Linked DNA regions of Homo sapiens: regions 2 and 3 are each linked to region 1. Evidence: fine-mapped expression QTL. A gene starts in region 1. Each other region holds a variant in brackets. All regions are shown on one strand. Distances are from middle to middle. Region 1 holds the start of TMED4 (transmembrane p24 trafficking protein 4). Region 2 has its middle 10 kb from the start of NPC1L1. Region 3 overlaps OGDH (oxoglutarate dehydrogenase).

Region 1 (4,242 bases):
ACCAAACTCCTTTTGGAATACTATCTGTGACTCCATTAGGAGTGCTATGGTCTCCCCACTGAGGCTGCCCCAAGAAAGGGACAGGCTGTCCCTCCACAAGCATCTCTGTTAGGACTGAAATCATGATCCTACCATTTCCAACAAGAGTCCAAGAAAAACAGGTAGGCAATGGCTATTACTAGATTGTGAACTGTCCTTTCTTCATTTTATTTTATAGAGCTTAAAAATGACTACTGAAAGCGAAATGTGGCACATGCATACAATGGAATATTAGCCTTAAGAAATTCTGACACATGCTATAACATGGATGAACTGTGAGAACATTATACTCAGTGAAATAAGCCAGTCACAAAAGGACAAATACTGAATGATTCCACTTATATGAGATAGGGTAGTCAGGATCATAGAGACAGAAAGTAGAATGGTGGGTGTCAGGACAAAAGGAAACGGGAAGTTATTGTTTATAATAAGTACAGATTTGCTGGGTGCAGTGGCTCACGCCTGTAATCCCAACACTTTGGGAGGCTGCGGCAGTGGATTGCCTGAGGCCAGGAGTTCAAGACCAGCCTGGCCAACATGGTGAAACCCAGTCTCTACTAAAAACACAAAAATGAGCCACGCATGGTGGCACTTGCCTGTAATCCCAGCTACTTGGGAGGCTGAGGCAGGAGAATCGCTTGAACCTGGGAGGCGGAGGGTGCAGTGAGCCGAGATGGCGCCACTGCGCTCCAGCCTGGGCAACAGAGCGAGACTCCATCTCAAAAACAAAACAAAATAAGTACAGATTTTTAGTTTGAGAAGATGAAAAAGTTCTGGAGCTGGATGATGGTGTTGGTAGCACAACATTATGAAGGCACTTAATACCACTGAACTATATAGACAGTTAAAATGACACATTTGGTGTTATATTTTACCACAATAAAATGTTTTGATAAAAAAGCAAAACAGGCAGGGCGCGGTAGCTCACACCTGTAATCCCAGCACTTTGGGAGGCTGAGGCGGGCGGATCACTTGATGTCGGGAGTTCGAGACCAGCCTGACCAACGTGGAGAAACCCCCGTCTCTACTAAAAGTACAAAATTAGCCAGGCATGGTGGCGCATGCCTGTAATCCCAGCTACTCAGGAGGCTGAGGCAGGAGAATCGCTTGAACCTGGGGAGGCGGAGGTTGCAGTGAGCCAAGATCATGGCATTGCACTCCAGCATGGGCAACAAGAGTGAAACTCCGTCTCAAAAACAACAAACAAACAACCTATCTAAACCAATACTTCTCATTCCATTCTCTGCAGAGCTGATCTCCCAAGCAGAAACTTGAGTAGGTATAGTGGGTATAAAGGTCAACTGCCCTCTCAAATTACAAGGAGATATGCACTTGCCCTTTGGTAATCCTGCTCCTTCTGAATCTGTTCCACCTGATCAAGCAACTGGCGGGCGCGGAGCTGTAGCTCCGTCAGCTTATCTTTTGCAGCAATCTCAGGGTAGTTGTTGGCATGCTCCCCAACCTGGATGTCGAGATGCACCCGCTACAAGGAAACATGGAATGTATGAGTGGTGGGGCCTCCAGTTGTCTGTTCCAGGGTATGGAACCCACTATTGTCCCTGGCTGTGGAGCAGAAGGCAACATCTGTCTCCCCAATTCTGACTGTGCTACAAAGTTTCACAATCTTGATAAATCAAAATTTGGAAACAAGTGAGAGATTCTAAGCTGAAGCCAAAGAGAAAATCCTCTTACCAGTTTGCCACCAGCGAAGAGAGCCATCCTGGTAGAATTGGAGTGCAGACAGATTTGATGGTCACCGGGCGTGTGGGAGGTGAACGTGAAGCGGCCCTCCGAGCCGTACTGCCGGGACAGCACCACCTGCAACATATGTGAGTGAAGGCCCCACCTTTATACCGCAGGCTCTCCAAGTGCAAGTTCCTGTCCCTTGAGGCCTCCTCCAGGCAGTGCTTTACACCCCACGGGAGCTCCACTGAAGAACGGCTGCGTGGGCCAACGCCAGCCTTACCTTGCCGTCGGGGTCCTTCACTTCCACGTGCATGCCCAGGCCAGGGGTCGAGGGCAGGAAGACCTCCTTCTGCTTATCCCACATCTGGGTACGATAGTTGCCTGCGGGGCAGACACATAGTCACGACCGGCCCTAGTGGGCCGCCTCTCCGCCCGGCCCCCTCCGACGTGCGGCCCGGAGCTCTAGGCAGGGGGCCTGGCGTCCTCGGGGCACCCTCAGGCTAGGTACTGGGGGAGCCAGCGACCCGGCTGGGCTCGGGAGGAGGGAGCGCCGCCGAGGGCTGAGCTGGGTACAAAGGGCCTCCCCACCCTCAGCCCGCCTGACCGATGACCATGGTCTCGTCGGGGATTTCCTCGATGAAACAGCGCTTCTCGGTCTCGCCGATGTGGAAGTAGAGCCCCTGGGCGCCTGTGGCGCACAGCGCGAGAAGCAGCAGGGCCTGCCGCCCCATCGCCCGCAGAGGCCCAGCCCCGACACCTGCCATCGCGCCTCAGCCCCTAAGCGCCTGCGCACATTTGCGCATCGCTCTGCGCCTGCGCGCCACCCTAGCGACCCTGAGAGTTAGGGGAAGAGGACGCCTGCGCAGTGATATGTACTCGCCGTCTCCTGCAACTCCATCCGTACCGAACACTGCCGCGCCCCGCCCCCTCACACAGCCCGGCGCCCGCCTACCCCCGCAACGAGAGTAGAGGGCGCATGCGCAATGACGTTCGCCCTTAATTTCTCGCCCCTTACCCCGCAGCTTACCTCCGGCATCTCGCAGGGGAGGCACGCCTGCGCAGTCACGCCCGCCCTCGGCCCCAGTCAGCGATTTGGGTCTCGGAGCACCAAGGAGACGGTGGACGGAATCTGACCAGGCTTGGTGGCTACGATGGCCTGAAGCGTGCCTTTTGGGTTCTCAGCTCGGGCTCACAAGTGTTTTCTGTGCTAAATACAAAAAGCCCTGTGATGTTTTGCTTTGCGTGTCCACCTATCTGACTCGTAAGAACCGAGGCTGAATCCAGACCCACACTCTGTCACGTCGGGAGAGCCTGCCGCGGCGAGCCTCTGCGAGCGGGCATTTCTTGGGTGGGGACCAAAAGCCCAGTGCTGCCATAGTTTCGGATCATTCTTTTAAGAAGCTGGGGCCGGGCGCGGTGGCTGGCACCTGTAATCCCAGCACTCTGGGAGGCTGAGGCGGGCGGATCCCTTGAGCCCAGGAGTTCGGGACCAGCCTGGGCAACATGGTGAAACCCCCGTCTCTACAAAAAATTAACCGGTGTGGTGGTGTGCGCATGTAGTCCCAGCTACTTGGGAGGCTGAGGCAGGAGAATCGCTTGAACCCAGGAGGTCGAGGATGCATTAAGCAGTGATCGCGCTCCAGCCTGGGCGACCGAGGGTGATACCTTGTCTTAAAAAAAAGGTGGGAGAGTGGAACGAAAACTTGGAATAAGTAGGGTCATGGAGCTTGTTTACATCCCCTAGTTACAGCACATCCTTTTGAAAGTGAAAAACAAACTGGAATGTTACTTAGTGGGCATGGAATCGAAGCAACGGAAGGTTAAAACTGTTTTTATCAAGGCCAGGCGGGCGCGGTGGCTCACGCCTGTAATGCTAACACTTTGGGCGGCCAAGGCTGGTGGATCATCTGAGGTTAGAAATTCGAGACCAGTTGGGCCAACAAGGTGAAACCCCCGTCTCTACTAAAAATACATTTTATCAACAGAATTTCGAAACTTTTATATAATAGAATAATTACAATGAACTTTCATAAAGAACTTGAGCATACCTGGATTTTGGTATCCGTAGGGGTCCAGGAATTATCCCCCTTGGATAATAACGGAGGGCTGTACTCATCATCCAACTTCAACAACAGTTTGCTGCCTTTCTCATTTCATGTATCCCTTTCTGCATTTTTTTTTGAAGTGCTGTATATTAAAGCAAATCCTGGACATCATGTCATTTCACCTATAAATACGTCAGTGTGTGTCTCTAACAGATAAGGACTTTATACTATTATCACACCCACCAAAATTTTAAAAATTATTTAACATCACTTAATACCTAGTATGTGTTTAATTTTCCCCATTGCCTTAAAAAATTTTGTACATTAGATATTTAGGGTCCAAACAAGGTTTACTTACTGCATTTCATACAAATATATGTCTCTTAATATATAACAATTTTGGCTGGGCACAGTGGCTCATGCCTGTAATCCCAGCACTTTGGGAGGCTGAGGTGGAAGGATCACTTGAGGT
Region 2 (4,242 bases), 30 kb before region 1:
TTTCAAAGTACTGGCATTACAGGTCTAAGCCACCATGCCTGCCAAGTCACTCTTTCTTTTTCCCTTTTTTGTAAAGCTGGGATCTTGTTATGTTGCCCAGGCTGGTCTCAAACTCCTGGCCTCGAGCAATCCTCCCACCTCAACCTTCCAAAGCACTGAGATTGCATGTGTGAACCACCACACCCAGCCAAAAAAACATAATTCTATATTTTTGAGCAAACAATGTGTAAAGATGGAATTTTTGACACCAATAACCTAAAGCAGGGACAAAGCTGTATAGGAGTAGAGTTTTGTATGCTGTTAAGTTGGTATCAATTCAAATTAGATTTTTATAACTCTAGGATTTTATTTGTAATCCCCAGGGTAACAACGAAGAATAATACATAGAATATATGCAAAAGGAAATGAAAAGAGAATCAAAATGTGTCACTACAAAAACAATTTTTAAAACCCAGCCAAGCAAGGTGACTCATGTCTATAATCCCAGCACTTTGGGAGGCTGAGGCAGGAGGATCATTTGAGGCCAGGAGTTCAAGACCAGCCTGGGCAACATAGTGAGATTCTGTCTCTACAAAAAATTAATAAAATAAAACAAAAAGCAAATAAATAAATAAATACAGAAGTCAATAATGAAGAAAATGAAAGACAAAAATCTATGAGACATACAGAAAAGAAAAGGTAAAATGGCATAAATCCTTATCAGTAATTACTTCAAATTTAAATGGATTCAACTCTGTAGTCAAAGTTGGAGAATGCAGAATACATTGTTTTAGAGATAGGATCCAACTATATGATGTCTAAGACACTCACTTTAGATCTGAGGACACAAATAGTTTGAAAATAAAAGAATAGAAAAAGATATTCCACGCAAATAGTCACCAAAAGAGAGCTGGAGTTGCTACACTAATATCTGACAAAATAGAATTTTTATTTTATTTATTTTTGGAGACAGGGTCTCACTGTTGTCCAGGCTGGAGTGCAGTGCCACAATCTTGGCTCACTGCAACCTCTGTCTCCCGGGTTCAAGCTATTCTTGTGCCTCAGCCTCCCAAGCAGCTGGGATTACAGGCGTGTCCCACCACACCCAGCTAATTTTTTGTATTTTTAGTAGAGACGGGGTTTTGCCATGTTGGACAGACTGGTCTTGAACTCCTGACCTCAAGTGATCTGCCCACCTCAGCTTCCCAAAGTGCTGGGATTACAGGCATGAGCCATTGCACCTGACCACAAAATAGAATTTAAATAAAGAATTGTTACAAAAGACAAAAATGACATTATACATTACTAAAAGGGTCAATTCATCAAGAATAAGTAATAATATATATGCACCAAACAATGTGACCTTAAAATATGTAAAGCAAACATTACATCATTGAAAGGAGAAATAGACAATGCAACAATAAGTAGTTGGAGACTTCAATACTCCATTTTCAATAATTGATGGAACAACTAGCCACAAGACCAGTAAGGAAATAGAAGTCTTGAACATTTATAAAACACTTGGACACTTGTATATATACAACATTCCACTCCATAACAGCAGGATACACATTTCTTTCAAGTGCATATGGAATATTCCTCAGGACAGACAGTACGTTAGGCGACAAAACAAGCCTTGTTATATTTTAAATAATTAAAATCATAGAAAGTATATTTTCCAGTCACAATGGAATGAAACTAGAACTCGATAATAGAAGGGGCTGAGCACGGTGACTCACACCTGTAATCACAGCACTTTGGGAGGAGAAGTTGGGAGGATCTCTTGGGCCCAGGGGTTCAAGATCAGCCTGGGAAACATAGAGAAACCCCATCTCTAAAAATAAAAATAAGTTGGGTGTGGTGGCTCACACCTGTAATCCCAATACTTTGGGAGGCTGAGGGAAATGAACTGCTTGAGCCCAAGAGTTCAGAACTTCCTGGGCAACATGGTGACATCCCATCCCTACTAAAAATACAAAAAATTAGCTGGTGTAGTGGTGTGCACCTGTAGTCCCAGCTTCCCAGGAGGCTGAGGTGGGAGGATCACCTGAACCTAGGAGATCAAGGCTGCAGTGAGCCAT[G/T]ATCGCACCACTGCACTCCAGCCTGGGCCACAGAGTGAGACCCTGTTTCAAAACAAAAATTAGCCAGGCATGGTGGCACACACCTATGGTACCAGCTACTCAGAAGGCTGAGGCGAGAGAACTACTTGAACCCAGGAGATCAGTGCTTCAGTGAGCCATGATCACACCACTGCACTCCATCCTGGCTCAAAAAAAAAAAAAGTAAATAAATTACAGGAAAAAAACCCTGAAAATTCATGATATTTGGAAATTAAACAACACATGCTTAACAACCAATGGATCAAAGCAAAAATCACAAAGGAAATATAAAAATACCTTGAGACAAATGAAAATGAAAACACAACATACCAAAACTTATGGGATGCAGCAAAGCTGTGCTAAGAGGAAAATTTTTAGCCATAAACACAATCAAAAAAGAAGAAAGCACCCTGGCGCGGTGGATCATGCCTGTAGTCCCAGTGCTTTGGGAGGCCAAGGGGGCAGGATTGAGGGAGACCAGCTCGGGCAACATGGCTAAACCCTGTCTCTACAAGAAAGATAGGAAAAATTCGCCAGGCATGGTGGCACGTGCCTGTAGTCCCAGTAACTTGGAAGGCTGAGGGATGAGAATCACTTGAGCCCAAGAGGTCGAGGCTACGGTGAGCTGAGATTACAGCACTGTACTCCAGCTTGGGCAGCAGAGCAAGACCTTGTCTCAAAAAAATTTTTAAAAATTAAAAAAAAAAAATTTTTTTAAAGAAAGGGCCAGGTGTGGTGGCTCATGCCTGTAATCTCAACACTTTGGGAGTCCATGGCAGGAGAATCATATTAGGCCAGGAGTTCAAGACCAACCTGGATTAACATAGCAAAACCCCATCTCTACAAAAAAGAGAGAAGGAGGAAAGAAAGGAAGAGGAAGAGAAAGAAAAAAAGAAGAAGGAGGAGGAGGATGTTGGGAAAAAGCTGAGTGTTGGGAGGGAAACTGAGGCAGGACTTGCATAATGTCCTCTGGAATGTGTCTAGACTTGCTGGCTCCTTGCTTCTAGCCCTCCTAGGCTCCTATTCCCATTATCTCAAGTAGCAGAACATGTTCCATATAAATGCTAAACTGTCACAGCTGTAGATCATGCGCCTGCCCTTTTGACCTCCACATTCTCACCACCTGTTTCTTTTTTTTTTTTTTAATACTTTAAGTTCTAGGGTACATGTGCACAACGTGCAGGTTTGTTACATATGTATACATGTGCCATGTTGGTGTGCTGCACCCATTAAGTCGTCATTTACATTAAGTATATCTCCTAATGCTATCCCTCCCCTCACGCCACAACGGGCCCCGGTGTGTGATGTTCCCCTTCCTGTGTCCAAGTGTTCTCATTGTTCAATTCCCACCTATGAGTGAGAACATGCCTCACCACCTGTTTCTTTGTTGGATTACCAATAAATACTGTGGACTCCCAGAGCGCAGGGCTTTCGCAGCCTCCATGATCACGATGGCCCCTTGGTGTCCCACCTTTATCTCTCAAACTGTCTTTGTCTCAATCCTTTGACTCCACCGGACTTTGTCACCCCCACGACCTGGTGTTGGGTCTGATCACCCCAACAGGAGGAGGGGGAGGAGGAGGAAGGGCGAGGAGGAAGAAGGAGGAGGGGGAGGAGAAGAGAAGAAGAAAGATTTGAAATTTTCTAACTGCACACCTTAAGGAGCTAGAAAAAGAAAAACTAAACTCAAAGCTAGAATTTTTAAAAATAATAAAGACTACAACTGAGATAAGTGAAATAGGGAATAGAAAACTATAGAGAACAGCTATGAAACAAAAAGTTGATTTCTTGAAAAAAATATTCTGAAGGAGCAATCTATAATACAAATAAAATAATACAGAAAAATAAATTTTAAAAGAAAAAAATCAACAAAATTGACAAACCTTTAGGTAAGGTGACTAAGAAAAAGAGAAGACTCATATTACCAAAATCACAAATGAAAGTGGGAACTTTACAATTTTACAGAAATAAAAAATACAATATAATACTATAAATGACTGTATAACAAACGATAATCTAGAAGAAATGGACAAATTGCTAGACATTGCATACCAAAACTGATTCATGAAGAAGCAGAAAATCTAAATAGACATATAACTAGTAAGGAAATTGAATCAGTAATTTTTAAACTCCCCCAAAAGAAAAGCCCAGGATCAGATGGCTT
Region 3 (4,242 bases), 51 kb after region 1:
AATCTAATGCCCCCGCTGATGTGACAGGAGGTGGAGCTCAGGTGGTAATGCTCGCTTGCCGCTCACTTCCTGCTATGCAACCCAGTTCCAAACAGGCCACTGACCAGTACTGGTCTGTGGCCCGGGGGTTGGGGATCCCTGGTTTAGAGAATAATAACAGGAAAAAAAAGTGTACATGTTCAGTACAGGCAGTTTTTTACCAACTATTTTCAATCCACGTTTGGTTGAATCCATGGATGCAGAACCCACAGATACGGAGGGCTGACTGTATACATAAACTGCATGGTCTACGTAAATGGGGTTTCAGCGATGAGCTTTGAAGTTACCCCTTGATGATTTTTTGTTTTTGAAGATTCAGGAGGTACATGTGTGGGTTTGTAACATGGGTACGTTAAGTAATGGTGGGAATTGGGTTTCTAGTGTACCCATCACCCAGATAATGAACATTGTACCCAATAGGCAATTTTTCAACCCTCACTCTCCTACCACCCTCCCCCACCGCCACTTGATAATCTTTAACTTCACATGTTAAGAGCAATCTCAGCACTTGTGGCTTTTTGTGTTAAATCAGCTAAACTGACTGAGTGCGCCTTCTCCAACTTTAGCACAGTATTTCACTCTTAAGCAGTTTGCATTTATGGTTTATTTAGGGTGATAAAATTATAACCTCTTTGAAACAACAGGAAACATGAAGCAACACCCTCACTTGTGTGGTAGTTTGCAGCTCATGACAGCTGTGTTCGAAGCTTGTGCTGAGTGGCGGCTGCAAGAGGAAAAGCAGTCTTGCCCTGTTATCCTAGCAGGATGATTAAATAAGTTTAAACAACAGTTAAAATTCTAGCTCTCTTTTCTCTCTCTCTCTCCCCCTCTCCACCCCCTTCCCTCTTTCCTTTCTCTCTCCTCTCTCTCCCGGCCCTTAAAAAGAAAAATAAATAAATAAAAACATTTGGAATTCTAATAGAACCCACTGAGCTTCTGAAAGGAAGTGCATTATGCTGTGCTGTGAAGGAGCCCAACAGGGGCTCACGGTCACTCAGCAGGATGATGGATGCAGGCTTCAGGGCCAGGAGCCAGACGCAGCAAGAAAAAACCAAAAATTTGGATTATGAAGTAAATGGAGAGGTTCCAAGATCAAACCAAGAGGTGTTTGTTGATTTTGTTATGTGCTGTGGGAGCATGGACCCCTCAGCAGGTAGAAGGAGAGCAAGTTTGAGGATGTGGTGCAGGAGGAGTTGGGATCCCCAAGAGCAGGAGGGACTGAGGCCAGGACAGCAGGCATACGAGGTCACTGAGGCTGGTGGGAGGAGAGAGGCTTACTCTAAATGAGGATCACTGCATCTTTTGGAGCTCTTCTTTTTGAGACAGGGTCTCCATTACCCATACTGGAGTGCAGTGGCACCATGATAGTAGCCTCAAACTTCTGGGCTCAAGTAATCCACTCCCCCGCCACTCCCCCACGCCTCAGCTTCCTGAGTAGCTGGGAGTACAGGTGCACACCACCATGCCTGACTAATATTTTATATTTTTTATAGAGACAGGGTCTTGTTTTTTTGCCCAGGCTGGTCTCAAACTCCTGGCTTCAAGCCATCCTCCTGCCTTGCCTCCTAAAGTGGTGGGATTACAGGCGTGAGCCACTGAGCCTGGTGGATGTTTTTTGTTGTTGTTGTTATTGTTGTTTTGAGATGGACTTTCGCTCTGTCACACAGGCTAGAGTGCAATGGCACGATCTCGGCTCACTGCAACCTCCGCCTCCCCGGGTTCAAGTGATTCACCTGCCTCAGGCTCCCAAGTAGCTGGGACCATAGGCGCGTGCCACCACGCCTGGCTAATTTTTTGTATTTTTAGTAGAGACGGGGTTTCGCCATGTTAGCCAGGATGGTCTCAATCTCCTGACCTCATGATCCGCCTGGTGGATGTTTTTAATGATTATCCTTTTGTACTGTACTTTAAGAAAAAAAAAA[T/A]TTTGTTTAATGTCAGAAATTGAAAGGGGAGAGAGATCAAAAATACCTTAATGGGGCCAGGCACAGTGGCTCACGCCTGTAATCCCAGCACTTTGGGAGGCTGAGGTGGGCAGATCACGAGGTCAGGAGATCGAGACCATCCTGGCTAACATGGTGAAACCCTGTCTGTACTAAAAATACAAAAAATTAGCCGGGCATGGTGGCGCACCCCTGTAGTCCCAGCTACTTGGGAAGCTGAGGCAGGAGAATGGCGTGAACCTGGGAGGCGGAGCTTTTAGTGAGCCAAGATTGAGCCACTGCACTCTAGCCTGGGCAACAGAGCGAGACTCTGTGTCAAAAAAAAAAAAAAAAAAAAAACCCTCAATGGGAAAGTAGACTCCAAGAGTGAAAAGGAGCAAATTGTTCCAGTGAGTTCCATTCTGTAGCACAGGTGGCCACAGGTGCTTGCCTTTGAGGAAATGAAAGAGCCATGCTTTGTAAGTCAGAGGCAGGCTCAGCTTCCCCGCACAGTCTGAAGCTGGGTGGCGGTGAGAAATTACTAAAAGGTTAGTGCCGGTTTTTTAGATGAAGTCATCATGTTATTAAAAAATAGTCTGTTTAGTCTCTAGGTTACTGTTCTCTGGCTCCCCTCCCCATCCAAGACTCCCTTGGAGGGAGGTTTGAGGACTTTGGGATTCTCATATCTCTTCGCGTCCATGATTGGATCGTGAGGTGAGGAGATAGCCTTTAGAACCCTCTCTTTGAGTGGTCAGTCACGTGGTATTCCCTCTGAAACCCTGGAGCAGATGCTTTGTGTAGCTGGGCTGGGGTTCCCCCAAATAGGGTTGCATAATTATTGAGGACAGATGAGGCCTCAACCAGACGACCACAGGTGACCCCAGACTGTGGGTCTTCCTCACCTCCTTGAGAGTTGCAATTCTGAGAGCTGATAAAATGTGCCATTGTGTGCAGATCTGGGTAGTTTGAAGCGTTCTCATTTCCTGAGGTGTGTCAGAAAGACTGCGTGAGAAAGGGGTCACAGTATCTTGGATGTCATCTTTTCATGCAGTAAAAAGTCTGGTTTCCATGAATGTTTGTATAACAAACCACCTCAAAACTTGGCACCAGTGTAGCATGTCTCATGACTCTGTGGGTTGGCTAGGTTTCCCCACTCCTCCCACTGCCAGCTCCCTTGGAGCTGAGGCTCACACCAGGCTAGAAGCCATGAAGGCCTCTGATGTGTCTGGCAGTTTGTGCTGGCTGTTCACTGGGCCCTGCCATCCTCCAGTAGGCCGGAGCGATTCCTGCACAAAGTCCCAGAGTAGCTCCAGACAGGGAAAAGAAAGGCTGTGGGGCCTTTGAGGCCTAGGTCCAGACCGTACACTGCTACTCCCCACGCCATTACCTTGGTTAGAGCAAGTCACAGACAACCCTTAGGGACATCCGTTTGGGGAGAGGAAAAGGCATGGCCACTGGACAGCCCTCCACAGCTCTTTTCATAATGACCTGATAGAGCAGCCACCTTTAGTCTAGTGCAGAATCCCAGCAAATATCATTCTGATATCAGTAGATTCCATAGGGCAGAGCTGAAGCAGCTGTTCTTTGCTAATCTTGGAAGTTTATTGATGTTTTATTTACACACCTGTACAGACAGAAGATAATAGAGATTGTTTAGAAATATTCTGTCACCTATAATGACTAAGCATTGCTATAATGGAGCATGTGGTTTCCTTAATTGAAGAATACCTAAATAGAAGCCCATTCTTAACTGGCCTCAGTATAAACAGCTTGTAGTGGCAGGTCACCAGGCCTGGATCACAGTGCCCTACCTTGTTTTTGCTTCATAGGCAGAATGGTGGTAAGTGGTACTCTGGCCTGGGCAAGGTCTGAGCAAGGCCTGCATTGATGGAGGGTCCAGAGTCCAGCTCTACCATCTGCACATTTTCTTTGGAGACTTGTGCTTAGCCCAACAGCATGAATCATTTGCTGAAGGCTCTGGAGGTGGGCATTCCATCCACAAGTCTCCCCAATAGGGAGTACCCTGTTTGGACATACAGGGTAGTCACACATATGGGTTTTAAATCTTGTTCTTAGGATATTTTCAGGAAAAGCTCTGGCCCACACGTTTAGGACCATTTCCTGGGCAGCATTGGAAGGAGTGGTAGAGGTCATGCAGGCCTGCCCTGTCTTGTGTGCAGGAAAAGAATGAGTTGTTGGTCTACACTGAGGCCGGGATGGGAGGCCTGCCCCTTACAGCAGCGCCGGCTGAACTCCAGGCTGGCTGGTCACATGGTGCCCAGCA

The links. PIP is the estimated chance that this variant, and not a neighbour inherited with it, causes the effect.
Region 2: its variant is fine-mapped to the expression of TMED4 in whole blood (TOPMed, PIP 0.98).
Region 3: its variant is fine-mapped to the expression of TMED4 in whole blood (TOPMed, PIP 0.99).

The regions. Positions count from the first base shown.
Region 1 is chr7:44,579,718-44,583,959 of GRCh38, forward strand. TMED4 (transmembrane p24 trafficking protein 4) reads right to left here and starts at 2,514. Exons shown (of 5, transcript NM_182547.4): 1 at 2,330-2,514; 2 at 2,006-2,106; 3 at 1,732-1,857; 4 at 1,376-1,522. The coding sequence starts at 2,489. RefSeq lists silencers at 2,138-2,237, 2,638-2,797 and an enhancer at 2,888-2,997.
Region 2 is chr7:44,549,687-44,553,928 of GRCh38, forward strand. No RefSeq gene overlaps it. Among named protein-coding and RNA genes, the nearest start is that of NPC1L1, 10 kb to the left of the region's middle. The variant G/T (reference allele first, on the strand shown) is at 2,061.
Region 3 is chr7:44,630,957-44,635,198 of GRCh38, forward strand. All of the region lies in intron 2 of OGDH (oxoglutarate dehydrogenase), which reads left to right. Among named protein-coding and RNA genes, the nearest start is that of OGDH, 26 kb to the left of the region's middle. RefSeq lists an enhancer at 3,175-3,224. The variant T/A (reference allele first, on the strand shown) is at 1,962.